Linked DNA regions of Homo sapiens: all the other regions are linked to region 2. The links come from fine-mapping of genetic effects on gene expression. A gene starts in region 2. Each other region holds a variant in brackets. All regions are shown on one strand. Distances are between the middles of the regions. Region 1 overlaps ARL13B (ARF like GTPase 13B). Region 2 holds the start of DHFR2 (dihydrofolate reductase 2). Region 3 overlaps NSUN3 (NOP2/Sun RNA methyltransferase 3). Region 4 overlaps ARL13B (ARF like GTPase 13B). Region 5 has its middle 140 kb from the start of NSUN3. Region 6 has its middle 310 kb from the start of NSUN3. Region 7 overlaps NSUN3 (NOP2/Sun RNA methyltransferase 3).

Evidence for each region. PIP is the estimated chance that this variant, and not a neighbour inherited with it, causes the effect. A credible set is the group of variants that fine-mapping cannot tell apart.
Region 1: its variant is the best candidate, but not a certain one, in a credible set for the expression of DHFR2 in naive CD8 T cells (Schmiedel 2018, PIP 0.68).
Region 3: its variant is the best candidate, but not a certain one, in a credible set for the expression of DHFR2 in nasal epithelium (TOPMed, PIP 0.63).
Region 4: its variant is the best candidate, but not a certain one, in a credible set for the expression of DHFR2 in whole blood (INTERVAL, PIP 0.66).
Region 5: its variant is the best candidate, but not a certain one, in a credible set for the expression of DHFR2 in whole blood (INTERVAL, PIP 0.69).
Region 6: its variant is the best candidate, but not a certain one, in a credible set for the expression of DHFR2 in anterior cingulate cortex (GTEx, PIP 0.78).
Region 7: its variant is the best candidate, but not a certain one, in a credible set for the expression of DHFR2 in tibial nerve (GTEx, PIP 0.88).

What each region holds. Positions count from the first base shown.
Region 1 is chr3:93,997,265-94,001,919 of GRCh38, forward strand. All of the region lies in intron 2 of ARL13B (ARF like GTPase 13B), which reads left to right. Among named protein-coding and RNA genes, the nearest start is that of ARL13B, 19 kb to the left of the region's middle. The variant C/CTATT (reference allele first, on the strand shown) is at 1,823.
Region 2 is chr3:94,060,648-94,065,302 of GRCh38, forward strand. DHFR2 (dihydrofolate reductase 2) reads right to left here and starts at 2,269. Exons shown (of 2, transcript NM_176815.5): 1 at 2,099-2,269; 2 at 1-959. The coding sequence starts at 864. The coding sequence ends at 301. NSUN3 (NOP2/Sun RNA methyltransferase 3) reads left to right here and starts at 2,414. Exons shown (of 6, transcript NM_022072.5): 1 at 2,414-2,491; 2 at 3,790-3,899. The coding sequence starts at 2,480. RefSeq lists an enhancer at 2,308-2,547.
Region 3 is chr3:94,091,602-94,096,256 of GRCh38, forward strand. NSUN3 (NOP2/Sun RNA methyltransferase 3) reads left to right here. Exons shown (of 6, transcript NM_022072.5): 4 at 2,539-2,693; 5 at 3,432-3,553. Among named protein-coding and RNA genes, the nearest start is that of NSUN3, 31 kb to the left of the region's middle. The variant G/T (reference allele first, on the strand shown) is at 2,348.
Region 4 is chr3:93,985,301-93,989,955 of GRCh38, forward strand. All of the region lies in intron 1 of ARL13B (ARF like GTPase 13B), which reads left to right. It also overlaps the pseudogene HMGN1P7. Among named protein-coding and RNA genes, the nearest start is that of ARL13B, 7.5 kb to the left of the region's middle. The variant CCT/C (reference allele first, on the strand shown) is at 2,346.
Region 5 is chr3:94,202,274-94,206,928 of GRCh38, forward strand. No RefSeq gene overlaps it. Among named protein-coding and RNA genes, the nearest start is that of NSUN3, 140 kb to the left of the region's middle. The variant A/C (reference allele first, on the strand shown) is at 2,324.
Region 6 is chr3:94,372,174-94,376,828 of GRCh38, forward strand. No RefSeq gene overlaps it. Among named protein-coding and RNA genes, the nearest start is that of NSUN3, 310 kb to the left of the region's middle. The variant C/T (reference allele first, on the strand shown) is at 2,902.
Region 7 is chr3:94,121,719-94,126,336 of GRCh38, forward strand. NSUN3 (NOP2/Sun RNA methyltransferase 3) reads left to right here. Exons shown (of 6, transcript NM_022072.5): 6 at 4,493-4,618. Among named protein-coding and RNA genes, the nearest start is that of NSUN3, 61 kb to the left of the region's middle. The variant G/A (reference allele first, on the strand shown) is at 2,689.

The sequences.
Region 1 (4,655 bases), 63 kb before region 2:
TCTGCAAAACTGGTCCCTGGTGCTGCTGATCTAAAGGGTAAGAATTGGGAGAAATGCATAACATGTATTTGTTTCTGGAAACTGATGATTGCAGTAAGATATCATGCTTACTAAATAGTGGAAGGGCATTTATTAATTAACAGGTTGCAAAACTCACTGTTGGAAAAAAACATTTTCTCACCTCAAATGCTACTCTGTAATGTTAAGTAAATTATCTGTTATTGTCTATGATTTTTTCTAAAGCCTATGTCTATGCTATCTTCTACGTTATATCTTCACAGGACACTCACTATCATTATTTAAACTAGTGGTCAGCAAACTTTTTCTGTAAAGAGCTGAGTAGTAAATATTTTAGACCTTGCAGTCATCCAGTCTCCTTCTGAACTACAAAATTTTTATACTGTAGTGTGAAAGCAGCCATAGACCATCTGCATACATGCTGGGCACGGTGGCTCACACCTGTAATAATCCCAGCACTTTGGGAGGCCGAGGTGGGCAGATCACCTGAGGACAGGAGTTCGAGACCAGGCTGGCCAACATGGCGAAACCCCATCTCTACTAAAAATACCAAAATTAGCTAGGTGTGGTGGCACACACCTGTAATCCTAGCTACTCAGGAGGCTGAGGCAGGAAAATTGCTTGAACCCCGGAGATGGAGGTTGAGTGAGCTGGGATTGCGCCACTGCACTCCAGTCTGGGCAACAGTGAGACTCCGTCTCAAAAAAAAAGAAGACAATCCGTATACAAATGAGCATGGCCAAGCTCCACTGAAAATTTATTTCCGGCACTGAAATTTGAATTTAATATAATTTTCATGTGTTAGGAAATATTTTTCTTTTAATTTTTTTTAGTCATTTAAAATGTAAAACACATTCTTAGCTTGTGGGCCATACAAAAACAAGTGGCAAACCAGATTTGACCTGGAGGCCATGACACCTTCTTCTAACCTTCTTTTATCCATTCCTCTAAAGCCTGACATTCATGGGAGCAGGCACCTTAGAATGTGCTAATCAGATTACCTAATTTGTTATGTATACTGGGTGTACTTAGAACATCCTCTTTCCTTTCTTTCTCTTATGTATTCCACCTCCATATATTCATAAGTTCCTTTTTCTGAGTCTAGAAAATGCTTAATGTCAAAGCTGCCTTCAACTTCGAGCCCCACTCCCCATTCTCTTTTTGTCCTTCATCCCATATTTACTCTTCAGTTTCTTACTTTGAAATTTTTTTAGGACTATAATTTCTTAGAACTACTTGAAACTTCCCAGATGTAAGCCTTCTCTTTCCTTTATATTTTTGTGTTGTTCTCACTTACCTAACTAGAGAGAATATCTACTGATGTTTAAAGATGTATTTTTGTCGTATAGTCTCCTCTTTTATAAAGTCCTTTTTAATTCCCAGCTGCCCCAATTACTACCTTACTTAGTAGAATTGATCATGTCCACTTTTTTGGCCTGCTCTTCCTGATACCTACTTGGTCACTACTTAATTACATTTTGTTTGTGTATCTTTTTTCTTCAGGCTGTAAATTCTCTAAAGGCATTTTGCTTATTTTGGTGTCACAATTGTTTAGGCCATGCGCCTAGGTCTTCTTAAAACACCTCTCTCATGGCTCCTACTTTTCTACTTATTTCTGATTCTTTTCTGACTTCTCAGCCTTCTTTTTTTTTTTTTTATTTCCGTGTGAAATTGAGAAAAAGTTATCTGCTAGTTTCTTTTCAGATGTGTCTACCTCTCCTCTGACTGTGTTGCCATTGGCTAAATCCAAACCCTCAGTTTCTTTTATCTATGATGTCACAGTAGCTTTTTTCTAATTCATATT[C/CTATT]TATTTATTTATTTATTTATTTATTTATAATTTTTTATAGAGGTGAGTCTCACTATGTTGCCCAGGATGGTCTTGAACTCCTGGCCTCAAGTGATCCTCCTGCCTTGGCCTCCCGAAGTGTTGGGATAGTAGGCATGAGCCACTGAGCCTGGTCATATTTTTTTGGTTTTTTAGAGACAGGGTATCACTTTGTCATCTAGGCTGGAGTTCGGTGGCGTGATCATAGCTCACTGTAATCTCAAACTCCTGGGCTCAAGCTATCCTCCTGCCTCAGCCTCGAGAGTAGCTAGACTAGAGGTGTGCTCCACAATGCCTAGCTAATTTTTTTATTCACAATAGCTTTTTTTCCCTTTTTTATTTTTAATTTTGTGAGTACATAGTAGGTGTATATATTACGAGGTACATGAGATTTTTGTATAGGCATGCAAGGCATAATAATTTCGTCATGAAAAATTGGGTATCTATTCCCTGAACATCTATTCTTTGCGTTACTCTTTCAGTTGTTTTTAAATGTTCGATTAAATTATTATTGACTATAGTCTGCCTGTTGTGCTTTCAAATACTAGGTTTTATTCATTCTTTCTAAATTTTTTTCACAATAGCTTCTTAATATAAAAGTAACACCCCTTCCTGGAACTTTACTTCTTTAAATCAAACTTCTCTTCTTCATGGTTGTCAGTAATTGCATTAGTTGGACACAGGTTCAATTGTTCTCACAGAGACCTAAGATAACAGTGGTTCAACAAGATAGATGTTTCTTTCTTTCTCATAACAGCCTAAGCAAAAGTAGTCTAGGACTGGTTTGTCAGCTCCATCGTGTTAGTCCTCAATTCTTTGTTCTATTTGCTTTGCCATCCCCAGTGTTCTCCCTCACCTACATGGTTGAAGGTAGTTCACTACAAAATGTGCATTTCAGCTAGAAGGAAGAGGTAAAGGGTAAGGGGAGGCCATCCTCCTTTTCTTTAGGAGCTGAACCAAAAGCTGCTGCATCATTTTAGTTCACATCATGACTAGAAGCAGTGGTGTTCTGGACCTGCTTTTCATATTGGCTCATATCAACTAGTGAGAGCCGATTATGCATATCTCTTCCCAACTCTATGTTTAGGTACCTCACATTGTTAGTTTGAAATTGGCCATGGTCAAAGTATTTATACTGTGGAAATTGGCAGATACCATACATGTATCAGGGTTCTTCTCCTCCAAATATTTAACAACACATCACTGGCTAGCCTCCCCTCATGGCCACCCCTTGCTGCCGTAGTAGTTGGGGATTATGGTCTGTTGTAAGCAGTCATGAGCCTAGGTAAAAAAAAATCTAGGATTCTCTTGACTATCAGATAGTGTTTCCTAATAGGGAACTATTGTTATTTTTGGTGCGAAAATTCTTTGCGTGGACTGGTCCCTAGCATTGTTGGGTATTAACATGTCTTCATTATATTGTAGTTATTTGTGATTTGTGAAGAGGAAAAAAAAAACAAAAAAATTATAGTTACTCATATATATATTTATGTTTCATATGTAGTTATTTGTGTATGTGTGTGTGTGTGTGTGTATATGTATATATATATATTTCCCCAATAGACTAAGAGCTCTATGGGATCAGAAGATGGATTTTATTAATCTTTGTATTTCTAGAACCATGCATAGTACTTAGCTTATAAGAAATGCTCAAAAATTTATTGATTGTATATTTGCATTTTATCTTGGACTTTCTAGAGATGATGTCTTACCACATATACTCTACTGAAATTCTCAATTGGAGACCATGTATCTTTGTATTCCTGGTTCTTGTATGATTTATCATCTATAATGGGCCCTAAATACATGTACGAGGATAGATGGATAAATACATGAAAGGAAAAAAGAAAGGGTGGATGTATGGGACAGGAGCTTCAGTTATCTCAGTGGTTTGGTGGTGTAGTATTGAGCCCTATATACTTTGTGCTGAATGCTAAGGATACAAAGACATAGTCCCATGTGTTGGGAAGGTATAGGCTATTGTGAAGATCAGTAGAGGACAGAATATTATGATAGAGGTAAAGGTGATAGTAGAAGTAGGAGGAATCATCAAAAAAGGATTTATGGGGAAAGTTGTACCTGAACATTTAGTCTTAAGTTGTGAAACACAAATGCTGAATAGGAACCAGAGGAAAGAATAGAAGGTGTTCCATATATCAAAAGAAACAGGCTTTGGAAGTCCTGAAGACCTCTGTTTGAGGCCTGTCTCTGCCTGCTATATAACCTTGAAAAAAAATCCTTAATCTGAATTGGTTTACTGGGCATATTGCCATCATTTTATCTGTACTTAAATTGCTCCCTCTGCCTAAAATATAGTTCTCCCTTCTCTGTTACAATTATGTAGCTTTTATGTGTTCACTCACAATGAAGTCTTCATTTCAAGATTTTATTTCTTCTCTGAAAGCCTTTCTAGACCATAACTTGCCCCTCCCTTTTTCACCTTCCTTCCCTTGAATTCCTACACACTATCGTCTCTAGCTTATTTTTTTTAAAGAACATACAAATTCTGTGTTATTCCTATTAATATTCCACTTCTCTATATTACATTGTACTTTGAGGACAGCAATCATATCTTACTCATCTTTGCACCCTTGATGCCTAACAAAGTCCTGGTACCAAGGAGGTGTTTGATACATGTTAGTTCCCTTATTCCTACTTCAGCATAGTTGATTTGTTTTCACTGATGATTGCCTGGGGTTCCTCTCTATTCATACTGAAAGACAGCTGCCTATTTTATCCACACAAACTACTTCTGGTTAAGCTTAGATCACATTTTTAAATGCCTAGTATAATCCTATTTCTGGAAAATCATTCT
Region 2 (4,655 bases):
CAACATTAGAAAAGCCTGACAATGTCAAGGAGTGGCAAGAGTGCCACATGTGATGGGTGTGGAATGGCAGCTCACTGTAGCAGGTGCTGGGGACTCAGTCGGGGTCTTGGAGAGACAGTTATAGCAAGAATGTTTCATAAATGGTATCTGATATAGCCAAGATTAGTGAGGAATAAAAACACGTTGCTTAGAAATAATTATCCATAGATCTGAAGTCAACAAAAGTCCCTTTTCTAATGTAAAAATGCATACTTTTCTCAGAGGGAGGGGGAACAACTTAAACCAGAAAACACCTTCATATTAATCATCCTTCTCACATACTTCAAATTTGTACTTGATGTGTTTCCCCTCCTGGACATCAGAGAGAACACCTGGGTATTCAGGCAGAAGTTTATATTTCTCCAAGTCAATTTCTGAAAAAAACGTGTCACTTTCAAAGTCCTGCATGATCCTTGTCACAAATAGTTTAAGATGGCCTAGGTGATTCATGGCTTCCTTATAAACAGAACTGCCACCAACTATCCAAATCATGTCTACTTTATTTGCTAATTCTGGTCGTTCAGTAAGTTTTAAGGCATCATCCAAACTTCTGGCAAGAAAATGAGCTCCTTGTGGAGGTTCCTTGAGTTCTCTGCTGAGAACTAAATTAATTCTATCCTTTAAAGGTCGATTCTTCTCAGGAATGGAGAACCAGGTCTTCCTACCCATAATCACCAGATTCTGTTTACCCTCTACTGAAGAAGTTGTGGTCATTCTCTGGAAATACCTGAATTCATTCCTGAGCGGCGGCCTGGGCAGGTCCCCGTTCTTGCCGATGCCCATGTTTTGGGACACAGCGACGATGCAGTTTAGCAAAAGAAACATGACAGCAGCGGTTAACACCTCCGAACTTGCTGGCTACGCCAGGAAGCCAGGCCAAGAATGCCGCGAAATTCCCTTCTTCAAATTTTTTTACGTGCCTACATTGCAAATACAATACCACTGTATTAATTAATTGCAACATTCTGGAATGAACATAGAAAAATAAATTATATAAAATATATTTATAAAGTATAAATTTATAAAATATTTATAAAATATAAATTTATAAAATTATAAAAAATACAGAGGCTGAAAGGTTAGACCGACTTTTCCACAAACATTAAACAGACGGCATCCAAGAGATGGCATCATTTCATTCCTGATTATCATAGTCTTTTGTACCAAATCTAAATTCTAATAAGATGCATTTTTTAGGTGACTTGGAAACTTGTTTAAATAAATAAATATATTAAGCTTCAAATCAGATTAGAAGGAAAGACATGTTTTTACATGAATATAAGACTTGTACCTATAGCATGTACGTATATTGATATGAGCATCAAGGAACAACTCAAAATGATGATTATTAACTATCAGGGACCATATCAAACCGGTTTTTTCTAATTGCTGATTGCTGCTACAAATGATAGTTACTGAAGCATGACACCAAAAGAGCAAATAAACTTCTATTCGTGTCAAAATAGGTGTAATAAACATCTTCCTTGGAGAACCATTAAACATTGCTCCCTTGTAAAGGTGAATTGGGGAGGCTAGAGTGGAGGGTCCTTTTGGTCTTCACGCATTTGGTATCAACGCGACAAAAATCACAATGATCACAATAGTGAAAATAATAGCAGCTAACATTTGGGCATTTACTGTTTCCTAATCACTGTTGTAACCGCTTTACATGCCTACTTCAGTTTAACACTCTCCATTAAAAGGAGAGATTATCCCCATGGGCCAGGTCTGGGGAAAAGCATGACTTAATTTCTTTTTCATTATATTCCACCCTTTTATCCTTGGGTACTGAATGTCTAGGTTAACAGGGGTCACTAGATTTGGTAGATTAAGTCAGTAACTAGCTTCGCTTTGAGAATATTTTAAATCAGTCATCATACAACATAACCCCAAAACTCATTCCTTTATTGAGCCCCATGCATATACACACTGTTCAGCACAATATGCGACTTTTTATTTATTTTTGAGACAAAGCCTCGCTCTGTCGCCCACGCTGCAGTGCAGTGGCGCGATCACGGGTCACTGCAACCTCAAACTTCTGCCCAAGCGATCCTCCCACCTCAGCATCCGCAGAAGCAGGGGCCGCACAGGCGCGCAGATGTGTGACTTTCTAAGGTCCGGCCGCCCAAAGCTACGCCGACCAATCCAAGTAGCGAAAGTCGCTTTGGCCCTGGCCCGTTACCTCCGCGTCCTGGGAAGTATCAGCCTTTACCAGCTACCGGAAGTAACTGCGCACGAAATCTCCCGCGGGAGCTAAGCCTCTTCGACAAGAATTCTATAGCGCGAGCAAATCAGTATCTCGCGAGAAATTGAAGAGGAAACGTGAGAATGAAAGTGGATGCCCGCGAATCCCGGAAGTCAGACTGTTTTTTTCAGTTCCCTGGAGGCTTTTTGATACTGATTCGCGTACACCTGTTGTTTGAAAGCTCTCAGCGGGACAATGCTGACCCAGGTGAGACCTGGGGCCCGGCTGGGTACCTCTATCTGAATGAGACGCTTCTGGACGCGGCCGAGGTGGCGAGGGAGGGTGCTGGGATGGGGGAACATCACCTTTGTTCGTCCCCTCGCGAGATCAGCGTTTCTTTGGCTTTACTGTCAAGCCCTGAAATAATGCTGAGTGCTGTAATGCTGAGTCCCTTCCGTCCAGCTCGCAGACTTCTAGTACCCACTCCCTCCAGCTCTTGGAGGGCTGAGATTTGTTTTCTGTGTCACAGCGGTATCCCGGGAGCTTAGAACAGTGTCTGTTACATAGTAGGCATTGAATACACGTTTCTTGGATGAATAAATGAAACAATTGCAAGGAAGTTCACGATGAAATTGGAGTGACTTTTCTCCCTAAATTAACTTTTCACTTTAAAATAACGTTGCAAAGATAGTACAGAGTTCTCAAATACCTTTCACCAATTTTTCTTGATGTCAGCATCCCCGGTGACTTTTTAGTTTTGTTTAGATACAAGTTCTTGCTCTGTCACCCAATCTGGAATGCAGCTGCTCCATCATAGCTCACTGTAACCTTGAACTCCTGGGTTCAAGCGATCCTCCAGCCTCAGCCTCCCTAGTAGCTAGGACTACAGGAGCAGGCCACTACGCCTGGCTAATTTTTTTTTTTTTTTTACTTTTTGTAGAGACACGTCCTTGATATGTTTTCCAGTCTGGTCTTGAACTGGGAAATGATCCTCTCGCCTCGTCCCTGCAAAGCATGAGCCAGCTGGAGTACAGTGGCGCGATCTCGGCTCACTGCAACCTCCACCTCCTGAGTTCAAGCGATTCTCCCACCTCAGCCCCCTGAGTAGGTGGGGTTACAGGCGCCCACCACTACTCTCGGCTAATTTTTGTATTTTTAGTAGAGACGGGTTTCCCGTGTTGGCCAACCTGGTCTTGAACTCCAGACCTCATGTGATCCTCCCGCCTCTGCCTCCCACAGTGCTGGGATTACAGGTGTGAGCCACCTGCCTAGCCCCTACAGTGACTTTTTAAAATTAATTTTGTTCCTTTTGACAGTTTCTTCAGCCCCAGTAGATTCTGTTTTAACCTTTGCTTCACATTTGGAAAATAATTATTTGGAAAAACCTTGCTTTTTCATAATTAGATAATGTACAGTTTTGGTACATGTAAGGTATTGCTTCCATTTCAAGAACTAGTAATTATCCAAAAAAAGTGTTCTTGTCTTAAAAAAAGACCTTGCTAATGTTGACGTTCAGTAAATTTGTAATATCACTGTGTGTCAGCAACTTTTTCTTATCGTCATAGCTGAAAGCAAAATCAGAGGGGAAGCTTGCAAAACAGATTTGCAAAGTTGTGTTGGATCATTTTGAAAAACAGTATTCCAAAGAACTCGGAGATGCCTGGAATACAGTAAGGTTAGTATAATTCATCTCGATGCTTTATGATGGAACAAAGTACAATATGTAGTCCTCCTTTTTGTGGGAGGGATGCTGTGAGGTTAAAAGGCAAAGGAATCTAAATCTGGTTGCCTTTTCCTACTGAAGCTATAGAAAGGAACAACTAAGAAGAAATAGAATGAATCATAGCATGTTGGAAAGGGGAAATAAAACTTTGTCGGGATGGTAAGCACAAATTGTTACGCCTTTGCTTTGAGCAATTACTTTGATCCTTGAAATAGGAATGCCCACTAGTTTGACAAAATTAATTATACTGTAAAAGAAAAAAACATAAAATTTGGAATATTTGACTGATTTCTGAAATTTAGAAGATAATACAACAAATCTTTAAAGCCAGCACTGCTTTATCTCAGCCAAAGGTACACTTTATTTGGTAATCATATTTCTTTCCTATGTCGATGGCTGGGTATATTTTGAACACGTGCATATACACACAAAATTATTTAAATATAAAAATAAGGAATGTTTAATGCATGGAAGTGGGAGAAATGTGATTTGTCTGTTTGGTAAGATGATGTTAATGTATGGATTACTGTATGGGTTCTTGACATTGAGTGCCTGATACACTATATAACCCTCTCTGGAATACAGAGCAAGACAGTCTGCATGTCCAGTTTACATGCCGTCTAGTTAGTGTTAATGGGAGAAGTGAGGAGATGGGTGTGGTTACAACTATATAAACTAATTTGTAAATACTGTGATCCAAGTATCTAA
Region 3 (4,655 bases), 31 kb after region 2:
TGTATCTTTTAGGAAAGTTGGTGAAAATTGACTTAGCTTAGATTTTTCTTAACACGTGCATGTTAAAAGTCTTTTGGGTTACCACTAGAAAAGTCAAAATAGAATGTAAAACATTTAAACTAGAAAAAGAGGAAAGTTGAATGAAAGGTGAGTAAGACCTCTTTTCTCTGAGGCCCTTAGTATTTGATAGGCAGTGGTGAACAATGGCAGGGGTGACTTTGGGGGTTATCTTGTGGACCCAGCTTATGCATCACTACAGATATGTTTGGCTTCATCTTTACTCCCATCCCTCACCTCGTGGCTGGAGCCACTTGAATTGTTTCCAGAGACTGGAGAAACCCTAGCAAAGGCTCATGCCATTCATGCAGTTATCTTCTGCTAATGCTACCACTGCCACAAATTGAAGAGCCTCCCAATGAGTGCCAGGTGACAAGCAGAGATCACCTCACCTGTATGCTTGCAATACCTGGCCTTGGGTACTGTCTGGTTTTTTTTAGCAGTTGCCTGAAGGGGTCAGGTACACAACCCCAAAGTTGGTAGAAGTTACCAGCTCTTGTTGTGGACTTTAACCAATGAGAGAAAGAGACAAAAAGCAGCCAGCAGATTGTTCTTCCTCCTTCCTCCACTAACCTCCAGTTCCTGAGAAGGCTCTGTAATTTCAAACTGTAGAGTTGCCCTGAGAGACTGACCAAAGCTCTAGGCAGCTTGATTACAAATCCTCCTGTATCTATCATGCTACTTCCATGATTTACTTCCTTTTTTCTCTCACTTTTGCTTCCTTAGAATTGCACCCTGTCCATACCATGAACTTCTGTCTTACATTGTTTTCTAGTGATCTCAAGCTAAGACGAGGGCTTTTAGACACCTATTTAAGTTCCATTAGTGAGTCCTCCAAAAGACACCCAAAATAAACATGAAAACTAGCTGTACAGATGTGCTTTAAGATGATTTTCTACTCCTCTTCTCAACAAAATTGATGCCATCTCCTGAGTGTCTTCCCTATAGAAATATGGAGCCCTGGGCCTGGCACGGTGGCTCATGTCTGTAATCCCAGCACGATGGGAGACCGAGGTAGGTAGGTCACCTGAGGTCAGGAGTTCCAGACCAGCCTGGCCAACATGGCGAAACCCCGTCTCTACTAAAAATACAAAAATTTAAAAATACAAAAATTAGCCAGACGTGGTGACGCACACCTGTAATCCCACCTACTTGGGAGGCTGAGGCAGGAGAATCGCTTGAACCTGGGAGTCAGAGGTTGCAGTGAGCCGAGATCATGCCACTGAACTTCAGCCTGGGCAACAGAGCGAGACTGCATCTCAAAAAAAAAAAAAAAAAAAAAAAAAAGAAAAGAAATATGGAGCCCTCGTAGTAGAGAAGGTAAGCCATACACAGAAACACCTCTCATGTGAGATAAATAAGAGAAGTACTGAGTATGTTTGGGAAATGGAGTAGTCCATCAAGTTTGGTAGAGCACAGAGTATACTGGGGAAATAGTGGGAGATTAAAATGGAAACATTGTCCTGAGGTCTGGCTATTATGGACCTTGATTTAAGGACTCTGCATTTGAACTTTACTCAGTGGATGATGGGAAGTCACTAAAAGTTTTTTTTTTTACTTTTTAACAGTGGAATGACAATCAGAAAAAAAAAAATATGTAACTGGGCATGTCCCTGTGGAGACACTGAAAGCCTGTGGAGTTGTTAAAATACATATACACATACATATACATATATGTATGTGTATATGTATGTATGTATGTATTTGAGCAAAGGCTTTACAATGTTTTTTCCCTTCTACGTTAAACTGTAATGTTCAGTTAGTTCTCTAGTATTGTTGCCTTGGTAACCTGACAGAGATTGTCACTATGATCTAGGCAAGATTGCTTATGATAAAGATGACCCTGATTGGTAAACTGCATGTGGGCTGGGAGAAAGAATAAATAACCCCTAGAGACCTGATAGAGGTGCCATGCTTTGGGTCTTCTGAGTGCAGTGATTCTTATAACTGGGCATGTCCCTGTGGAGACACTGAAAGCCTGTGGAGTTTTTAAAAGGAATAATGGTTCCTGTGGGACAGGAAGCTTTTAAGCCAGGACAGTTCCTGCGTCTGCCGCAATGTGAGTTTCATCTTCTTGCACCTGAATTACCACCTGTGTTTACTCTTAAGCGTTAGTTCTTTAGAGTGAGAGCCATGTCTGAGGTATTGGTTGTATAACATATCTTTAGGAATTTATAATTTTTTATAGGTTTTACCTCTAATAAAATTAAACTTGGTGGAGCAAATGCTGAGAGCTTCTGAGAGACTGTGTAGGCATGACTGTTGTAAATGTTTTATGTAGTAGGTATGT[G/T]CATCTATATATACATACACATATACCTTATTTCTGTTTTTAAAGCATAAGAAAATAATAATGTTTACCTCTGAGCCCTATTTCTGCATAATTATGATGAGTTAATTTCTTTCTGAAATTTATTTGCTGAAAAGTAGAAATTTAACAGTTCCATTGCCTTCATTTGAAACTTTTTAATCCTTTTTATTTAGGTTATCTTCATTGTAATGAATATGATAGTCTGAGATTGAGGTGGCTAAGGCAGACGTTGGAATCTTTCATCCCACAGCCTTTGATAAATGTAATTAAAGTGTCTGAATTGGATGGCAGAAAAATGGGAGATGCCCAGCCTGAAATGTTTGACAAGGTACTTTTATTACATTGTGACAAACTGATGGACGCCCAGTAATACCACTATTATGTTGCTTTGTGGTTGTTATTTTCCATCTGTTCTCAGACATAGCCTGATACAGTTTCTCAGTACCCTGGAAAATTTTGATAAAGTGAACATGGAAGCAGTTTTCATTTGATGGTCAGCATGGTTCAAAGGAAGCAGTAACATTGGGATTGAGGATTATAGAATGTTTTATATTGGCAGGTAACTCAAAGATACTCAGGAAAAGATCGGATATTATTTGGGTCAGTACTGTATTGCTTTAATTCAGTAACATTTCATATCAGAGTATGACAGTTGAAGAAAAAGAGGTTATTTCAGTAAGCTGAAGTTGAAATATTAGTTCTTAGAAATAAGTGCTGAGAATTCAGAAATATTATTAATGTCTGATTACAATGAGTAACTTTTGTAAAAATTTTTGCTGTGGTTGTCAAGGATATCAAATAGCATTAGTAGACCTAGTAAACTTTAATTCTCCCATCCTAAGCCCCCAAAAACAAACACTGAAAGTACATGGTAAGTTTTTCTGAAAAGTGTTAGTGAGGAAATGTCATAAGGAAAAACCTACTGTGGTGTATTTTCAGTTAAAAAAGAAATGTTTTTACTTATTTCCTATTTGTTTACCATGTTTTAGAGAACTTCTCTATCTACTTCGTGCCTGAGAATAGATTGTCAGTGCATATTTGCATCACTTGTCTTTTTTTTCTCTAGGTGTTAGTGGATGCTCCGTGTTCAAATGATCGAAGCTGGTTGTTTTCTTCTGACTCTCAGAAGGCATCCTGTAGGATAAGTCAAAGGAGGAATTTGCCTCTTCTACAGATAGAGCTGTTAAGGTAAGGACTGTTAATACAAAAGTGTATTTTGGTGTCTGATGTAATTTACACAGGCATAATAGAACATGTCAGGCCCCCAGTGGAGGGCTTGCTGTGTAGGTGTCAATGATTATTCCTCCAAAGGCTACACTCAAAAAATTCCCAACTTCTTCCCCTTTATCGCTCATACTGTAATGCTCACCGCCCCTCCCTCCACCCCCAGTGATGTGTAGTATTGCTGTGCATTGTCTTTTAAAGGGCATAGGCAATTTTACTGTAGTTCAAAGTTGTTTGCTCACTGGGACCCAACCCTGGGGGTTCATAGCCCTGTTTCTTTTACCAGAATCTGAGCAGCCCCTTAGGAATAGCTTTGAATCAGGATGCATGTTTTGTTATTGTTCTGGATGAATCAGCCCCTAGCAAGTTGTAGCTGGTTGTTAGCGCTTATCTCCCCTCTGAGAATTTTCCAGAAGGACCTGGCCACTGAACATTTGGTTTCATTAAGAACACAGCCATTTTGAAACATTATTGTTCGGGTTCCAACAGCGATTTTGACATATGCCCTACTCCCATGTAATTCTCTTGTTTAATGCTAAACCAAATTTTTTTGTTTGTTTGTTTGTTTGTTTTTGAGACAGAGTCTCACTCTGTCGCCCAGGCTGGAGTGCAGTGGTGCAATCTCGGCTCACTGCAACGTCCACCTCCCAAGTTCAAGCTATTCTCCTGCCTCAGCCTCCTGAGTAGTTAGGATTACAGGTGTGCGCCACCAAGCCTAGCTAATTTTTTTTTTTTTTTTTTTGTATTTTTAGTAGAGATAGGATTTCACTGTGTTGGTCAGGCTGGTCTTGAACTCCTGACCTCGTAATCTGCCCACCTTGGCCTCACAAAGTGCTGGGATTACAGGCGTGAGCCACCACGCCTGGCCACTAAAGCAAAATTATCTATAATATTTAAAATACAATTAAATGGTGCCTTAATCACTCATTACCTCTTGCACGTAGAAAGACAGTGAATGACAGTATGCATTTCCAACTTCTGACTGATACACAACAATAAACATATACCATTACCTAAATATTATAACCAATACTAATACATAGCCTTGTATCAGATTACGTCTCAG
Region 4 (4,655 bases), 75 kb before region 2:
ATTCTCATCTACAGATTTTGAGCTCCTGTTATTTATAACATAGCATCTAGGTGATGAAATAGTGCATGTAAAATATAATGATCGAATATGCAAGAGTTGAAATATGATTTTTAAGATTTTTAATGAGAATCAGGAAAGAGGATTTTAGAAGGGGTGTAATTTTACCTGGGTCTTGAAGAAATTCATGCAACAAATTTTGCATACAAATTTTGGCAACAAAATTCTTTGTTTATATGAAAATATACATGTTATATAACTTCTTATATATTATGCATACATAACTAACAAAAATGTTTTTACTGTTATTTAACCAAAAAGAAAGATATAATAAGTACCATATGCCTGCCAGGTTTTATAAATATTAATCTTTAGTCATCATATTTCAATTTTATTTTAATAAGTAGGTAACAAATCCTTGAAACTTCCTGCCCCCTATTCATCTCCCACCATTCTTCCACAGAGTTAACCTTTAATTGGAACTGATTTCTTGTCCATCTGTGTTTTTTCAGCATCACAAATACAACCTATCAAAGCTTTACTTCAAATTTATTAGTAAATTGTTTGCTGTGGCCAAGTCTAAAATAAGATACAGTACACAATGTTTCTAGTGGTCTGTTTTGTCCTCTTTGCTATGAACTTTTTCACTGAGGGAATACTTAGCTCCCTAATACCATCATTCTTGGCCTAAATAAATATAACTGTAAATCTAGACCATTTATAGAAATTGCTGAGTTCTTAATTTTCCAATTAAGCTGTATGTACAGATTAGCAAGGATTATCTATTGTGCTGTATGCTGAACTGGAATATTTTACATCTCTTTTTATCCCCCTAGTTCTTCTTGATTATGCATAGTAAGAATTTTAGAATTTTAATATAGAAAAGGACCTAGAGACATTCTTATTTTACCCCCTTATATTTTAGAGATGAAAAAATGGACACTAAGAATTTGACTTGATCAGGGCTTAAAAGCAGGCTATAAACCCAAGCTTGGCCTTCTCACTATTTATTCATACTCAGTAAATTTAGATAATGATTTTGCTGTAATATGGGGTTCTAGATCTGAATTGAAATGTCAGAAAATAGTGTACTGCAATAAAATCACACTGTTTTTTCGATACATTTTTTTCTTTCTATCAATTTGTCGTATAGTGATTTTTTAAAATTCTCACATATGTATCATAAAACCTTGTTCTAAAGTCTTTTTTTGTATATGTATTTGTTACTTTTAGAATTTATGTTTATGTTAAAATTTAGAATTTGCTTCATGTAGTTTTAAATACTGTAGATAATAGAGTTCCGATGTGTCAAACTTTGATTTTAGTGTTTTTAGCGAAATGTTTTCTTTGACTTGCATAATATTTTTGAAGTTAGAAACAGCTTTTATGGGCCAGGCATGATGGCTCGCACCTGTAATCCCTGCACTTTGGGTGGCCGTGGTGGATGGATCAGTTGAGGTCAGGAGTTCGAGATGAGCCTGGCCAACATAGTGAAACCCTGTCTCTACTAAAAATACAAAAAATTAGCCAGGCATGGTGGCAGACTCCTGTAATCCCAGCTACTTGGGAGGCTGAGGCAGGAGAATTGCTTGCACCCAGGAGGCAGAGGTTGCAGTGAGTGGAGATCTCGCCACTGCACACTCCAGCCTGGGTGACAGAATGAGACTCCGTCTCTAAAAAAAAAGGAATAGCTTTTATCTAATTATCATATTGAAAGTATTGTCTTCCTTAGTTAAAAGATGAGGAAGTTTAGACTTGTAGGTGTTCAAATGATTGTGATAATGTCATTCAGGAAAGATTCAGAATTTAAATGTTTTCTAAGTTCAATCCTCCCTAATGCCATGATGCTTATATTTCTGATTTTTTTTTTTTTTAAATAGAGACAGGATCTCACCATATTGCCCAGGTTGGTCTCAAACTCCTGGGCTCAAACAGTCCTCCTGTCTTGGCCTCCCAAAGTACTGGGATTACAGGCATAAGCCATTGTGCCTGACCAGTATTTCTGATATATTAATTTGTATATCCGTTATATAAAAAGGAATTCTGAGATAAGATATTCTCATATTCTCACTTAGGAGATCTATTATATACATTGTGTTGACTTGAACAATATTAATTATTAGCTTCTGGAGTATGGAAGTCTTCACTTGTTTCGGCAGATAGCTAAAGTGATGTAAAACAGACCTTTGGATCCCTTAATCTCTACCTTTGATTTTTTTTTGTTTTTACTAAGAATTATTTCAGTTTTTTCTTTTGTAATGGAGATTTTATTTGTCGTGTTGAGAATAAGTATACAGACATTTCAAATTGTACACAATTCTTAACATACATACCAAAAATCTAGAAAA[CCT/C]CTATTGTAATTCCTTTTTCTGAAACGGTCTCTCTCTATTGCCTAGGCTGGAGTGCAGAGGAGTGATCACGGCTCACTGCAGCCTTGACTGCCCGGGCTCAACCGATCCTCCCACTTCAGCCTCCCAAGTAACTGGGAGGTGCATGCCACGATGCCTGGCTAATTTTTTTTTTTAATTTGTAGAGACAAGGTCTCACCATGTTGACCAGGCATGTCTCAATCTCCTGGGCTCAAGTAATTCTCCCACCTTGGCCACCCAAAGTGCTGTGATTATAGGTGTGAACCACTGCACCCGGCCTCTTTTTTAAATAGTTATTATAGTGACATTCCAACTTAACATTTGGAGGCAAATTTTTCTTAAGAGGATTATCAAGAGCCAGTATCTACAAGTGTTTGATAAGCTGTACACGTTCTACCAATTCACAGTTTAATAGCATGTACACTATATACCCAAATTTTCAATCTTTCACAGCACATTAACACAGTTATTAGGAAATCAGGACTTCTGTGACCAAAGATGTTATAGTGTACACAGTTCTGACAGGGAGAGCCATGATCAAGGAGTGGTTTTCTTTAGGAAACAATTCTGTGAAAAAAAAAAAAAAACATGGCAATAGAAGTAATTTAAAATGTTCAAGACATTAAATGCAGGATTCTGACTCTGTATTGCCATTTAGTATATTTTGTATTACAGTATATAAAAACTAAGCCCCCATCTGTGGAATGTTAAGCTGACATCCAAGACAGTCAAAACTTCCTGTAATTCAATATCCCATACTATTCTCTGGTTTCACCAAAAAATAAACAACCAGAGAATTATTTCACCTCAGAAAAAACTTAACAATGGAATGAGGTGGGAGTTCCTGCTACTTAAAATGTTTCTAGAGCTACTAAAAGACTTGCACTTACAAAGCAGTTGATAAAAATACCCTGGATTGTACAAGAAGGGAGACAGGGACTACTGATAAGACATGGTATATGATATTAATCAGACTTGGCTTCTTTCTCTCCTGCTTCATCAAAGGTTGGAGTCTCCTCGGTTTTAGTTTCTTCGTTTTCTGCAGGTAAATCTTATTTAGTTTCTTGGTTAGCCACTTTGGCCTGTTTTCCCTATGCTCCCCTTTTCCCATTTGTTTGCATTTTTTTTTTTTTTTTAATCTGAAGATTTAGCCTTTCCTGATGCCTCTTTGGCTTCATTTCCACTTTTGCAGGAGCAGGTTTAGCTGACAAGTGCGCAGATCTCCTCTTGGGCTCTTGCTTCGCCACCCCTTCGGCTGAACTGACCTTCCTCTTGGGCATCTTGGCGGCAGGAGGGGCACTTGCTGGGCACCTGTGGGCCACGGAGCTGAGAGCCTTCGCGAAGCTGGGCTGCCTGGCTACTGGCACTCCTCCCGCTGCCCGAGCTGCTGAGACCCCTATTTCAGTTTTGAAAGTCTTTCTGTTAATTAGTACCTTGAAACCATGAGCATGTAAGCTTTTTCAGAAAACTTCAGCCAATTTGATATATATGGATATAATTACATTCTTTAATATGAACTATTTTGATGTGAAGATTTATATAAATTAGCTTCATTATAGTACTTTCTCAATCTAAAGTTATGTATTTTAATTTTACTTAGTATTTACTCAGCAAATGGGGTTCAGAAAATGTTTGTTGTTTCTTTCAGTAAAGAAGCCTACTGTGTGCCCAACACATTTGATACAGGCACTACAGAGCTGATAAAGAGAAGTTCTGGTAGAGGAGCCTGTATAAAAAGTAGCCGGGGATGGTTGTGAAGGGCTGAAGGAGTACTCGGCATGGAAGGAATCCTCGGCATGGCAGGCTTCCTGGGAGTGGCAGAAGTGGGGGCTGCCAAATTGAGACTTGATTCTCTATAAGGATTTTAAGCAGAAAAATGCTATGGTTAATTTTTTTTTTTTTTTTTAAACAGCCTCATGCTGTCAACCCAGGCTAGACTGCAGTGGCATGATCCCAGCTCATTGAAACCTTATTTAATTTTCATTATATCCCTTTAGAGTAGCTATTGTTATTATCCTATTTCATTCATGAAATTCTGAAAAGTAATGTGCCATATAGCTTAGAAATGGCAAATCTGGCACTTGAACTCAGGTCTCTAACACCAAATTTGTGGCTACATTTCAGAGTACCCATAATACCTCTTATGTTACTTATTACTAGTATAACATACTGTAAATCTTATAATACTACAGAGTCCTTTGTATCTCAGCCTTTCTAGTAATCAAAGACCCAGGGATGACTATAATATTAGGAGTAAGCGGCTCACTTTCAACTTCTGGAAAGGTTACA
Region 5 (4,655 bases), 140 kb after region 2:
CCATTGCTGGTTAGCTAGTGTGATCTTTGGGGGATATTAAAGAAACTTGTTTTGTTATATTATCAGATTTGGGATTTTTTTTTTTTTTTTTTTTTTTTTAGTTTCTTCTCATTTGAGTAGACTATGTCAGAGGGAAGATTTAGGGCTCAAGGGCTGTTGTTCAGATTCTTTTGTCTCATGCGGTGCTCCCTTGATATGCTGTTCTCCCCGCTTCCCTTAAGGATGGGGCTTTCTGAGAGAAAAACTGCAGTGATTGTTATTTCTTTTCTTTGTCTAGCCACCCAGCTGAGCTACCAGCCTCTGGGCTGGTACTAGGGAATGTCTGCAAAGGGTCCTGTGATGTGTTTCGTCTTTAGGACTCTCAGCTGTGGGTATCAGCACTTGCTCCGGTAGAGGTAGCAGGGGAGTGAAGTGGACTCTGAGAAGGTCTTTGGTTGTGGTTTTGTTTAGTGCACTGGCCTAGTGTTGGTTGGCTTCCAGGCAGGAGGTGGCACTTTCAAGAGAGCATCAGTTACAGTGGTCTAGGGAGGATACAAGCTGGATACAAGCTGGCCGTAAGGGGACTTGTTGTGGCCTCTTTGGGGGATGGGAGGTGTGGTTCTCAGGCTGATGGAGTTACATTCCCAGGGGGGATTAGAGTTGCCTCTGCTGCATCATACAGGTTGCCAGGGTAGTTGGAGAAAATCAGCAGGGACAGGCCTCACCAATTCCCATGCAGTCAGCAAGGTCAGTCTCACTCCCACCATATCCCCCCAGTAGCACCAAGTTTATCTCCAGGCAGCTGGTGAGAAGGCTAAGATCTTGGCCCAGGCTACAAGCCTTCTTGCTAAAAAAACAAGCAGGACTTTCAGGTTTTGTTCCTGTCTGCCTGCTATGGCTTTTGTGTTCCTATCTGCAATCCCAGATCACCTCCTCCCCGAGATTTGGTCCAGGAAACTTTGCTTTGGTTGAAATTGTTACAAAGTTCAGCTGGAAGTTTCTTTCTCCCTGTGGTCTTTCCCTAATTCCACTAGGAGCCCTCCCCAAGGACCCTTGTGAGACAAAGTCAGAAATAGCTTCACTGGGGAACAAGAGTGCCCACAGGGCTCTTCCTGCTGCTTCCTCTACCCCTATATTTTTCCCAGCTCTCTAAATTCATCTCCACTCCCAGTAAGGTCAAATCCTCTCCCATAATTAGATCCTTCAGGTTTCCCAGTGAGGATGTGCGTTTGGGGGCAGATGTTCTATCTTTCACACTTTGAACACTCACAACTTTTCAGCTGTCTCATGGAGCCTGCAGCAGCAGGCCCTTCAATCCATTTTGAGTTCATTTTTGCATATGGTGTGAGATAAGGGTCTAATTTCAGTCTTCTACTTGTGAATATCCAGTTGTCCCAACACCATTTATTGAAGAAACCATCTTTTCCCTTTTGTGTTCTTGGCACCTTTGTCAAAATCAATTGACCAAAAATGCATGGATTTATTTGTGTGCTCTCTAGTCAGCTTCATTTCTCTATGGGTCAATTTTTATGCCAGTGCTATGCTATTTTGACTCCTAGAGCTTTGGCCATCAGATATTTGAAAAAACGCTCAAAATTGCCAATCATCAGAAACTGCAAATTAAAACCATAATGAGATATCTATCACCTTGCACCTGTGAAAATACCTATTATCAAAATGACAAAAGAAAGTGTTGCAGACAATATGGAGAAGAGGGAACCCTTGTACATTGTTAGTGGGAATATAAATTAGTGCAGCCATTATGGAAAACAGTAAGGAATCTCTTCAAAAAATTAACAATAGAACTGCCTTATGACCCAGCAATCCCACTATGTCCAAAGAATATGAAATCACTATGTTAAAGCGATACTTGCACTCCCATATTCATTGCAGCATTATTCACAATAGCCAAGATAAGGAATCAACCTAAAGGTCCATTAATAGATAAATTGATAAAGAAAATGTGATATGTAGACACAATAGAGCACTATTTACTTAAAAAGGAAGAAAATGTTATCATTTGCAACAACACAGATGAACCTGGAGGACATTATGTTAAGTGACATGCGTCAGATAGAGAGACAGATACCAAGGGATCTCATTCACATGTGGAGTGTAGAAAAAGTTGAACTCATGTAAATAGAGAATAAACTTATGGTTACCACAGGCTGGGGGAAGGAGGTTGGAGATATGTTGGTCAAATGATAACAAAATTTTAGTTAGATAGGAAGAATAAGTTCAATAGATCTATTGTACAACATGATAATCATAGTTAATAACAATGTATTCTGTTCTTGAAAATTGCTGAGAGTGGATTTTATGTGTTCTCACCACACAAAGAAAT[A/C]ACTAAATGTGGTAATGTGCATGTTAATTAGCTCGCTTGAGCCATTCCACAATGTATACCTATTTCAAAACAAAATGTTGTACAGAATAAATATATTCAACTTTTATTTATCAATTTAAAAAGTAAATAAATACATTTTGATTAAATTTAAAAATAAGTAAATAAATACATTTACCTGGAAATGGCGCTGTTCTTCCCTGGATTTCACTCTTTCAATCTTTTCCATGACTGGGTTACACCTTTTTTCTCTCCCTCTCTTCCATCTTATCCTCCTTCGTCCTCACTTTCTGCATATGACCTGTTTGCTACTCCACAGAACACTCAGAACACTCCAGAGATAACTTCCAGACTTCTCCCTTACCTGCTGACCAGGCTTTAGACCTGCATGCTTAATTTTATCACCTGTGAAGAATAACTACACACATTTCTATTCCAATGTCAGTCCCTCCCCTTGGGCACTAAATTTTATCCCTCTTGCTCACTCAAGGGCATTACTGCCATGATACTTACTTTCGTCTCTCACATCACCATGTATTTCCTCTTTACTGGTCTGTTCCCATTTATACACAAACCTTCTTCTTCCCCACCCCATCTTAAAAAAAAAAGAAAAAAAACCCTACTCTTTCTCTTCGCTCCATTTTTCTGCTCCAGTTTACTAGAAACTCCGTGCTGCCTCCAAGTTTTCTCCACTCTTCATCTTTAAAGCTCCCCAGTCAGGGTTTTGCCCCTACCTCTCCTCTTAAACTGTTCTTGTCCAGGTCCTCAGTGATGGTCATGTCGCTAAAAGCAATGGCCACTTCTCAGCCTCCTCCTTCTTGGTGCAGTAGGTTGTTCCTTTCTCATAGACTTTCATCATCTAGCTTCTGGAACATTGCTTTCTCCTGGTTTTCTTTCTACCTCAGTGGGCAATTTTCTGATTAAAAAATACAGTACAGAAGTCATTTACTGTGCCAAAATAGAGGGTCAATATGAAGTCTTTTTCTAGATTTGAAAAACAAAACAGACTGATCCAGAGAAGGTTATTTAGATTCTCTGTTAGTTGCTTCAGGCATAATGATAAGGTTTTGGACTACATTGTCTTGAAATTATCCTGCACTGTCCTGATTCTTGGAAAGCATTATATGGTTTAAAATATGTCAAGCAAAGAGGCAAAATACTGTGTTCCAGTGTACAATCCATTGTATTCACACTGGAGGCTTAGGTTAATCTCATAGCTTTTCTAAGCCTTAGTCAGCTCATCTGTTACATGGGGAATAATAAAATCTTGTTGGCCTATCTAAACAAAATGGCTATAAAAATAAAAACAAATGGAATTATATGAAATTACCTCAAGAATGCTGCAATACTATATGATAAGAAAGGGAAAGATTACCTCAAATCTTAGAATGAAAGAGGCAAATTCACAAAACAGCAGAATATTTTACTATACAGATTTTATGATATGATATTCATTACCTCTCTCAGTCATCACCATTATAGAAAATGGCAACTTTGTCTTTCCTGTGGCATTGGCCAAAACCTTGCGATGATCCATTCTATTCTCTTGCTCTCACAGTCAACTCAATAGGAAAATACTTCCATTTCTACCTCCAAAATCTCTCTGCAATCCAACTACTTCTCACCAATCTCACCACAATTTGCCACCATCTCTCTGATACGTACCACCAGCATCCTTCACAAGGACTGTTGCCACAGCACCCTAGTCTCTAGCTTATGCCTTATCCCGTGTAGTCTATTCTCTACAAATCAGCCAGAGTGGTCCTGTTAATTAACATTGGCGATTATGTTATTTTTTTGCTCAACACCTTTTAAAGGCTTTTGATTTCACTTAAACTAAAAGGGGAAATCCTCACAATGGCCTATAAGAGCACACTCCTCTCTTTTTTACAACTCTGACTCATCTATTACTGCTGTCTTCATCCTATATGTGACTGTAGACACACTGGTCTTTCAGTTCATTTCTTCTGCCAGAAATATACTTTTCTCAAATTTCCAAATGATTAACTCCCTCCATTTCTAAAAATTTTTGCTCAAGTGTCATTTTCTTAATGAGGCTTACCCTGGCCATTCTATTTAAAATTGCAATCTGTTCCATCACTGGGACACTTCTAATCCCCTCTCCTTGGTTTATACTTTTCTTTATCATTGTCTTCCTCTAATATTCTATACCATTTATATATTTATTATCTTTCTCCCTTTTCCAGTGCAATGACGCATACATTTTTATCTTTTCTTTTTCCCCACTAAGGTATCTCAAGCACCCAAGAGAGTGCCTGGTACAGAGAAGGTGTTCAATATTTCTTAAATATTAAAAGATTGAGCTCTGAAGGCA
Region 6 (4,655 bases), 310 kb after region 2:
AAGGGTCCTCTGCTTACTAAGGTGCTTCTGCAATGTGGCTTCCTACCATGTGATTAGCAACATCTCAACTTCTTCTTTCCATGAACCCAAAAGGAACTCAAATCCACAATACAGCCAAACACATTCTTTCTTTTTCAGCCTTTGTCTTTTTTGTTGTAGTTTCTGCTAGATCTTCATTTTCAAATTCATTCTTTCAAAATCTTACACAAATATCAGGGTCCTATTAATCAAGCATCAGAGTCCCATTCATCAAGGATCAGGGTCCCATTCACAAAGCATTTAATTCAGGAAGCAATCCTTGATCTCCCCTTCCTGATGAAGTCACTCCTCTGAGCCCTGTTAGCACTCTCTACCCCTCTATATCACTTATATCCTGATTATTAATATGCATATTTGTAAGGTTATCTTATTAACGACCTTGTACTCTCCCGACACTGTGACTATCATCTTAAGAGTAAAGTTTCTTATTTATAATTTCATTCTCCACATTGCCTACTTTTGCATCTTACAATGCTATTTACTAGTTTTTCACATGTATGTGAGAACTAAATTGAATTTTTATTTTTGACAGATAATAAAAAAAGCATTTCATTTATAAAATGAAGCATATAGTTGAAATAAGTAGGAGTGAAAGAGGTATTTAGTTATGATCAAATATATTAAGAAAATTTGCTGTTCTAGTTTTCAATGTACCAGAGTTCTATTTTAGTTAAATTATTTTTCTCTTTTAACCCTTCTCTCCCTTATGTTCTTTCATTTTTACTATATATGTATTCATATAGACACAGAGTGACTATTTCTCTTCCCTGATATCAAAGAATTTTTTCTCTATTTGATTTTTCCCTAGGGTTAGGCAGAGTGATTTAGAATAAACCAAATTTGACTTGAATCCTTACACATTTCTACAAATGTCAAAGTTTTAAATTGCATAACTCTGTATAGAATTTATGAAATCTTGAGTTTCTCTTGGATTCTGCTTTGAGCAACAAAACATACCATGCTTAAAATTGAGTTCATCTGGAGAACACAAAGTAATGTCAAAAAATACTACTCAGCATATCACTTCCTCAGAAATATCTCAGTATACTCAACATACCTATCTATAAAACAGCAAACTTCTAAGCTGTGGAAGTGAATAAAATTGATATTAGTCAGTGACTTCCCTGTGGGAAGAAGGGTGGCAGTGTAAATGCAGAGTAAAGGCTGAATGAAGTCTATATATGTTTGGGGGTATTTTCAGCAGCGGTTCTTTCAAAAGTCATTTCATTTATGGCTTTTTTGGTGATTTTGCACAAAATAACCTAGATACATTTAATTTTTACATTTTCAGAAGAAACCTGCTCAGTTTGGAGCATGTTCACTTCTTTTGAAATGTTGATGTTGAAAGCTGCATATAGATCTTTTGAGAGGCCACATGCTTGAGATTCTATTTTTAAATTTTCATGACAGCTTTTACACTCTCCTGAGCATGCTGGATCTAAGTTTCTACTGAAGCATGTAATTACCAGCAATGACTTAGCATCTGCCATGTGGTGCCAAGTAATGGTAAATGGAAGCAATGTCAGAAAGAGAAGATTGGCAAGTTGGAAATACTGAGATAACTCAGAGACTCACCTACTCTGGCAAACACTCTCACCATTGCTGGCAGCACAAGAGAACTTTATTTGCAAGAAATGCTTATGTAATATTTAAAGTGCCCTACATCAGAGAAAATAAAAGGGTTACTTTTTTTTTGTTGTTGTTGTTTAGAATAAAGACATAATATCATTGACTGAATGCCCTACTCTTCCAAAACTATTTCTTACCTAACTTGTCATTTTATTTTACTACCTCCACTATTTGGTTTGCTCCTTTGGATGAGAATATTGTCTATAGAAGGTAACTCTCAAAACATAGCTATGAGATAAAGACCTAGGAATGGGGTTGAAGATGAAGCTGTAATTTAGCTTTAGGGTATACAGGAATCACCTATAGAGACTTTTAAAATTACAAATTCCTGGACTCAGCCTTCAGAGATTCAAATTCAGTAGGTTTGGAATTAAGCGGAGCAATCTTCATTTTTCTGAAGCACTGAGACCTTGGACCAGATGGGAAAGATATCACTCTAACTTGAAAAAAGCTACCTTTTAGCCTCTGCCTTAGTCCATTGGTGTTGTTATAAAGGAATACTTGAGACAGAGAAACTTATAAGAAAAGAGGTTTATTTGTCTCATGGTTCTGTAGGTTGTACAAGAAGCATAGCACCAGCATCTGCTTCCATTCTGGGATTTAGTGTGTTTCCACTCACAGCAAAAGGTGAAGGGGAGTTGGTGTGTGCAGAGATCACACGGCAAGAGAGGAAGCAAGAAAGAACTGGGGTTGGAGGAAACATCAGGCACTTTTTAACAGCCAGATCTCACAGGGACTGAGGAACTAATAGAGCTACAGAGAGAATTCACTTACTAATTACCATGAGAACAGCACCAAGCCATTCATGAGGGACCCACCTTCAAGACCCAAACACCTCCCCTTTGCACCACCTCCAACATTGGGAATCAAATTTCAACATGAGATTTGAGGGGTCAAACAAACCAAACTATAGCAGCCTCTGTCTATTTCCAGTATAAACTGTGGACAAGCAGAATTCTAGAGTCTCCCAGGAGCATGACAGAACTGCAAAATCACAGATTCACACCATCTATAGAATCAGAATTTGCATTTTGACAAGATCCACAGGTAATTCCTATACACATTAGAATGTGAGCAGCACCACTTCAGTAAACACATAGGATTTAGTTCCTGCTGTGTAGTTAATTAGATTAGCTGTTACATTGACTAGAGAAGGGAGAGTAGGAGGTAGAACAGTAAGTTTGGATGGAAAGGTGAGCATTAGTTTGGAAGATGGTGGTGGAAGGCTTGAGG[C/T]AGTTTGGTGGAAACAATATGGGAACAGAACTGGCAATTAAGCCTTGAGAGGCAGATTTCACAATGATTCCAGGGGCCCTTCAGCCCCGTGTTAAAAAGTGCTATCCTGTATTTCTTATCTTTAGTTTGAAAAAATTTTATTTAGGCCAGGTGTGGCTCACATCAATAATTCCAGCACTTTGGGAGGCCAAAGCAGGTGGATCACTTGAGCTCAGGAGTTCAAGACCAGCCTGGGTAACATAGCAAATCCCTGTTTCTATAAAAAATACAAAAAAAATTAGCTGGACATACTGCCATACACCTGTGGTCCCAGCTACTCAGGAGGCTGAGGCAGGAGAATCACTTGAGCCCGGAAGGTGGAGGTTGCAGTGAGCTGAGATCATGCCATTGCACAACCTTGGGCAACAGAAGAGAAACCCTGTCTCAAACAACAACAACAACAACAACAACAACAACAACAACAACAAACAAAAATATTCTATTTAAAGTCCTAGTATTTGAAGTACAGTAGAGAAAATATAGTTAATAATAATTTATTGCATATTTCAAAATAGCTAGAAAAGGATAATTGGAATATTTCGAACATAAAAAAGGTAAATGTTTGAGGTGATAGATATCTTAATTACCCTGATTTGACCATTACATATTGTACATAGACGTTTATTAAATATTTCATGTATCTCCCAAATATTGAAACTATTATATATCAATAAACTTAAAGCACATAACAATATTACATATATGTAATTCATTTATACTTTGGATTCCGCATGAAGCAGTTTTGACAAATTGCTGTTATGGTCTATTCATTGTGCTTTAGTATTTGACTGCTAGAACAGATAGACAGTTTTAAACCCTCCCTGTTTTGAAACTGTGTACAGATTGACACAGTCATAGTTACTGAATAATTCAAGGGGAAAATCTCTGATATTCCTCAGGTAGCCACGATCTTTAAGCCTGGCTACAGATGCATTTTCCTTGAACCAAAAGATCTCAATTAAGATTAAAGTTTCAAGCGAAACATAGGAGCTGCATTCTCTGAATGAGTACTAAATGTGGTGAAATGAGTTCAGCTATTTTGAACATCTACCATGCAGAATAAATTTTATAAATAAATTAAATCACATAACCTAATGAATATATTTCTTGTCACTTAGCAAGATAGCTGTTACCAGCTAAATACTAAAAGCTGTGTATTTAATTGATAAAAGCACATTTATTACATTAGAAATACGTAAAGTTACCCTGCAATGTGACTACCACACAGAGTTCTGTCTCATTAATTCCAAAGAGACATTGTGCAAGTTTTATGGTAATTTTGACAAATTAAGTTTCTTAGTGTTTTTAATTTGGATTTCATAATCTTTCTTGCCAAATAATTATTTAACTTCACAAATGCTAGCTTTGTAATAATTAATTGGTATTTAATTATCATATAACCAATGATATTATAATCTCTATATGAAGTTTCATTTCATTTAAAATAAAACCTCATTTTAATGTAAATTTTTTTCAGATTAGTATCAGTGACAGTTTTTCACATGAGATAGTAAACTTGGTTTACTCTCTGAGCAAGCAAGTAATCGTCTTTCAAGATCAGCAAGGAATTTAGGTATTGTTCTTTCTGAAAATTGCCCTAAAGTTGTACTGTCATTTTAAAACATAAGACCATGTCACATACTTTGGTCCCTTGAGACTCTAACTATAATAATTTTTTGGTTTAGGACATTACAATTAATGGAAAAAGATAAAAA
Region 7 (4,618 bases), 61 kb after region 2:
ATATCTCTTTAATCAATAAATGAATACATGAGATGTATAGAAATCCTGGATACCATAAAATTTTAGTTATCTGGAACCTCAGGGAATACCTTTTCTAGAGAGGTTATCCCTTAACAGTCAAAATTTTTAAAAATACATATAACTGGCCAGGCGTGGTGGCTCATGCCTGTAGTCCCAGCACTTTGGGAGGCCAAGGCGGGCGGATCACCTGAGGTCAGGAGTTTGAGACCAGCCTGGCCAACATGGTGAAACCCCGTCTCTACTAAAAGTACAAAAATTAGCCAGGCGTGGTGGCAGGTGCCTGTAATCCCAGCTACTCAGGAGGCTGAGGCAGGAGAATTGCTTGAACTGGAGAGGTGGAGGTTGCAGTGAGCCAGGATTGCACCACTGCACTCCAGTCTTGGCAACAAGAGCAAGACTCATCCCCCCACCTAAAAAAAAAAAAAAAAAAAACAATTTAAGTGACCTCCATGGCAAAAGCTCTGATATTTATTCTTTTGTCAAATCTCCCCTTTAATTTGTATTACAGAAATAAATCAGATGGGTAAAAAATTAAACTACAAATGAGCTCCTAGTGAAAAGGATTGCTCCCCTGCAACTCTTCCTCTCTTCCTCCAGTCTTAGTCCTCAGAGGCAATTGCTTCTAATGATTTTGGTTCCTAATTCATTCTTCAGGTCACCCCCAAATCTCTAAATAATACGTTTATTCATTTTCTAAAATTGTCAAAAAATTAGACATTAACTACTGCCCTATCCCAAGGATTTATGTCACTTACACCACCCTTCCCTCATCACACTACCCTGCACCCTGCAATCTCACACTGTACTCAGTTTCTCTCTGTCGGCTCTGAAACTTAGTACCATACACTTAGACCTACATTTCTTATTCTATTAGTGGGGGAAAGTTCTCTTAAATACACATCACACCTTTTTTGTCTTTTTTTCTTCATTTATCTTTATTCTTTTAAAAAAATAATTAGAGGCAAATGTCTTTTGCCTTTTATTTTTATAAAATAAGAACACTTACACGCCCACCCTGCCTTCCATTTCTCTCTCCCTTCTACTTCCCAGTATCTTACAGCTGTACTTTCATGTTGTCAAGGTTGATCATATTCTTTCTGAGACCTTAAAATCTGTTCTGTAACAATAGTAAGTTTGGTCTTTGGAGTAATTCTGAACATTGAAGACCCATAAGTGGTGTATATTGTTTAATTCTATAAATATTGTCCACTGCATAATGGAATAATATGTTAGAATTAAAATTCCTTGTCTCTTGGTTCAATCTCATGAGCAGAATACCACTGAAACATTTTTTCTAGAATCAGATAGATGAGACAAGTTGATCTCTCCCTTTCCCTCCCAATTATGTATACCAAATCTTCAAGTTTTTCTCAGTTTTCAGTCATTTCATCTCTTTTACTTCTCTCCCTTCTCCCTTCCTTCTGGAGAGCTCCCTCTTTTTCCAGACTGCAGTAGTTGCCTTCCAGGCCTCCCACGCAGCTCTCACTCTGAGGCTTCACTCCTTTCACTGCTCTTCTATGTTGCATGCACTCTTTTCTGAATTACATTTTTCCTCTTTCTTGCTTTATTTCCTCATTTTACTAGAATTAAAATTTCGGAGTCATGAGATATCTGCAAGTTTCTGGATTCTTGCTACATATTTATTTTATGAGTTGGCTGCAAATAGAATTCACTTTAAATTGCTTTTTCCTAGGATTTGGAATGTATTTCTCCACTGATACCAGTCTGATTCCTGGGCTCGTAATAGGTGACCTGTTTTTCTCTTTGGAGGCATTAAACACCTCTTTGTTCTTGAAGTTCAAAAATTTAACAATGATGGATCTAAGTGTGGGTGTTTTTTATTCATTATAAGGGTGAAGTTTTGACAGTTTTCATCAAGACCCTCTCCACCCCCTCCTCTTAACTCTGTCACCTCGTCTCAGATTACCACCCCTGGCTCACCTTGCTCCAGCCACACTGACCTCCGCTTTCCTTGAACATGCCTCAAGGTCTTGTCACTGGCTATTCCTTTGGTATGGAATGCTCTTCTCTCAGATATCTGCTTGGCTCACTCCCTTACCTCCTCAGAACTTTGTTCAAATGTCACTTTCTGAAATGGCAAACTGTTCTAACTGTCCCATTTAAAATTATAATCCCTCTCATCCAAGCACTCCTAATCCTTTTATCCTGCTTTTATTTTCTTCATAGTTATCTATCACTAAATTGCATACTAAATAAAAAAATGTGCAAACCTGTACATATATGTATGTATGTATATGTGTATATGTATATATGTTTATCTTTGTATATGTGTATGTTTATGTATGTGTGTATATATTTATATTAGTTTGCTAGAGTTGCCATAACAAAATAACAAGACTGTGTGGCTTAAACAATAGAAGTTTATTTTCTATTTTATTATTTTATTTCTTTTTTTTTTTTTTTTTTTTTTGAGATGGAGTCTCACTCTTTCACCCAGGCTGGAGTGAAGTGGTGTGATCTTGGCTCACTGTAACCTCTGCCTCCTGGGTTCAAGTGATTCTCCTACCTCATCGTCCCAAGTAGCTGGGATTACAGGCATCCACCACCGCACCTGGCTGGTTTCCCCATGTGGTCCATGCTGGTCTCGAACTCCTGACCTCAGGTGATCCATCTGCCTCGGTCTCCCAAAGTGCTAGGATTACAGGC[G/A]TGAGCCACCGCACCTGCCTAGAAGTTTATTTAATCACAGTTTTGGATGCCAGAAGTTTGAGATGAAGGCATCAGCAAGATTTGTTTTGTCTGAGGTCCTTCTTCATGGCTGGTAGATAGCTGTCTTCTCCCTGCGTCTTCTTTATATGGTCCTCCCCTGTAATTCTGTGACCAAATGTCCTCTTCTTGAAGGATCCCAGTCATATTCCATTAGGGCCCACTTTAATGAACTACTTTTAACTTAATTACTTCTTTATGGACCCTGTCTGTAAATACAGTCACCTTCTAAGGCACTATGGGTTAGGACTTCAACAAAGGAATTTTGCAGGGACACAGTTTAATTCAAAACATATTTAATTTGTTATATTCTATGTCCCCCAGCTAGAATGTAAGCTTCATGAGGTGAAAGATTTTTTTGTTGTTGTTCTGTCTGTTGAGATATACTTACCACCTAGAACAATGCTCAGCATATAATAGAGGCTCAATAAATAATAATGAGTGTCTTATCTTTCTAGTACTCCTATTAATTGGATTTTGAACCTATGTAATTGATCCACCTTGTCTCATTTTCAGTCAGTCTGTTACTGTTGTACTTTTTGTGGAGAGATTTCTTCAACCTTAACTTCCAAATACTTCTACAGAATATTCTTTATTTTGGTAACCATATATTTAGTTTCTAAGAACTCTCTTCTTGATCCTTTTTCATGGCATTCTGTTATGGATATTGTATCTTTGCTGATCTGTCTGCATTTAATAGATCATATTTCTCTTTTGTTCCCTGAATTTTCTGTTTCTTCCTGTGTCATTATTGTTTATTTTGTTCTTTCTCTTACATATTGCTTAAGCATTTCTGATCTTTAATTATCTAGCAATCCTTGGTTATACATTTTTATTTAATAATGAGACAATAAAAGTACTAGAGGTGTATTTTAAGGACGAGACCTTTTATCTGGTGATACAACTTTCTGAAGAGCTGACTGTTACTCTGGAGGCTCTCTTCATGGTAGAATGCAGAGATCTTTGATTTGGGGTCTAAAACCCATAGTGGCTGCCTTAGAAGTCTTCACAAATAGTTTATTCAATTTTCTTAGATAAAAACCTTCCAACTTTTTACCTGGTTGCCCAAATTGCAATATTGGAAGTATGGAATCAATGACTTCTTATGTATGCTTTCATATGTATGCTTTGTTTTTATTTTTACTCCCATCGATTTAAAGACAAACTCATTATTCTGTTCTCTACCCCTATTTTCCTACTTTTTGAATAGCAATCAACCAGTCTAACTTACTCTATCTTTTCCATGTTGATTGGTCTGATTATCATTTTCCAAGTCTTCAAGGATAAGTTAGAAAGAAATAGGTGTAAGATCAGAGATTGGGCACAGTGGCTCACGCCTGTAATCCCAACACTTTGGGAGGCTAAAGCAGGCGATCACTTGAGATCAGGAGTTCAAGACCAGCCTGACCAACTTGGTGAAACCCCGTCTCTACTAAAAATACAAAAATTAGCTGGGCATGGTGGAGGCCGCCTGTAATCCCAGCTACTTGGGAGGCTGAGGCAGGAGAATTACTTGAACCTGGGAGGCAGTCATCGCAGTGAGCCGAGATGGCATCACTGCACTCCAGCCTGGGTGACAAAGTTAGACTCTGTCTCAAAAAAAAAAAAAAGACTAGAAAACATCCAAAGTAATTGCAGTCTAAGTCAGAGTAAGGTTAGTTTTAAGTACGTAATCTTTGCTGTCAGACCCCCTGGTTTCTTTTTAATATACTTAACTAATCTTTTGCATTTTTCTGATTGCACACAGGTCTGCAATTAAGGCCTTACGTCCTGGAGGGATACTTGTATACTCTACATGCACGCTTTCCAAGGCAGAAAATCAAGATGTGATCAGTGAAATTTTAAACTCCCACGGTAACATCATGCCTATGGA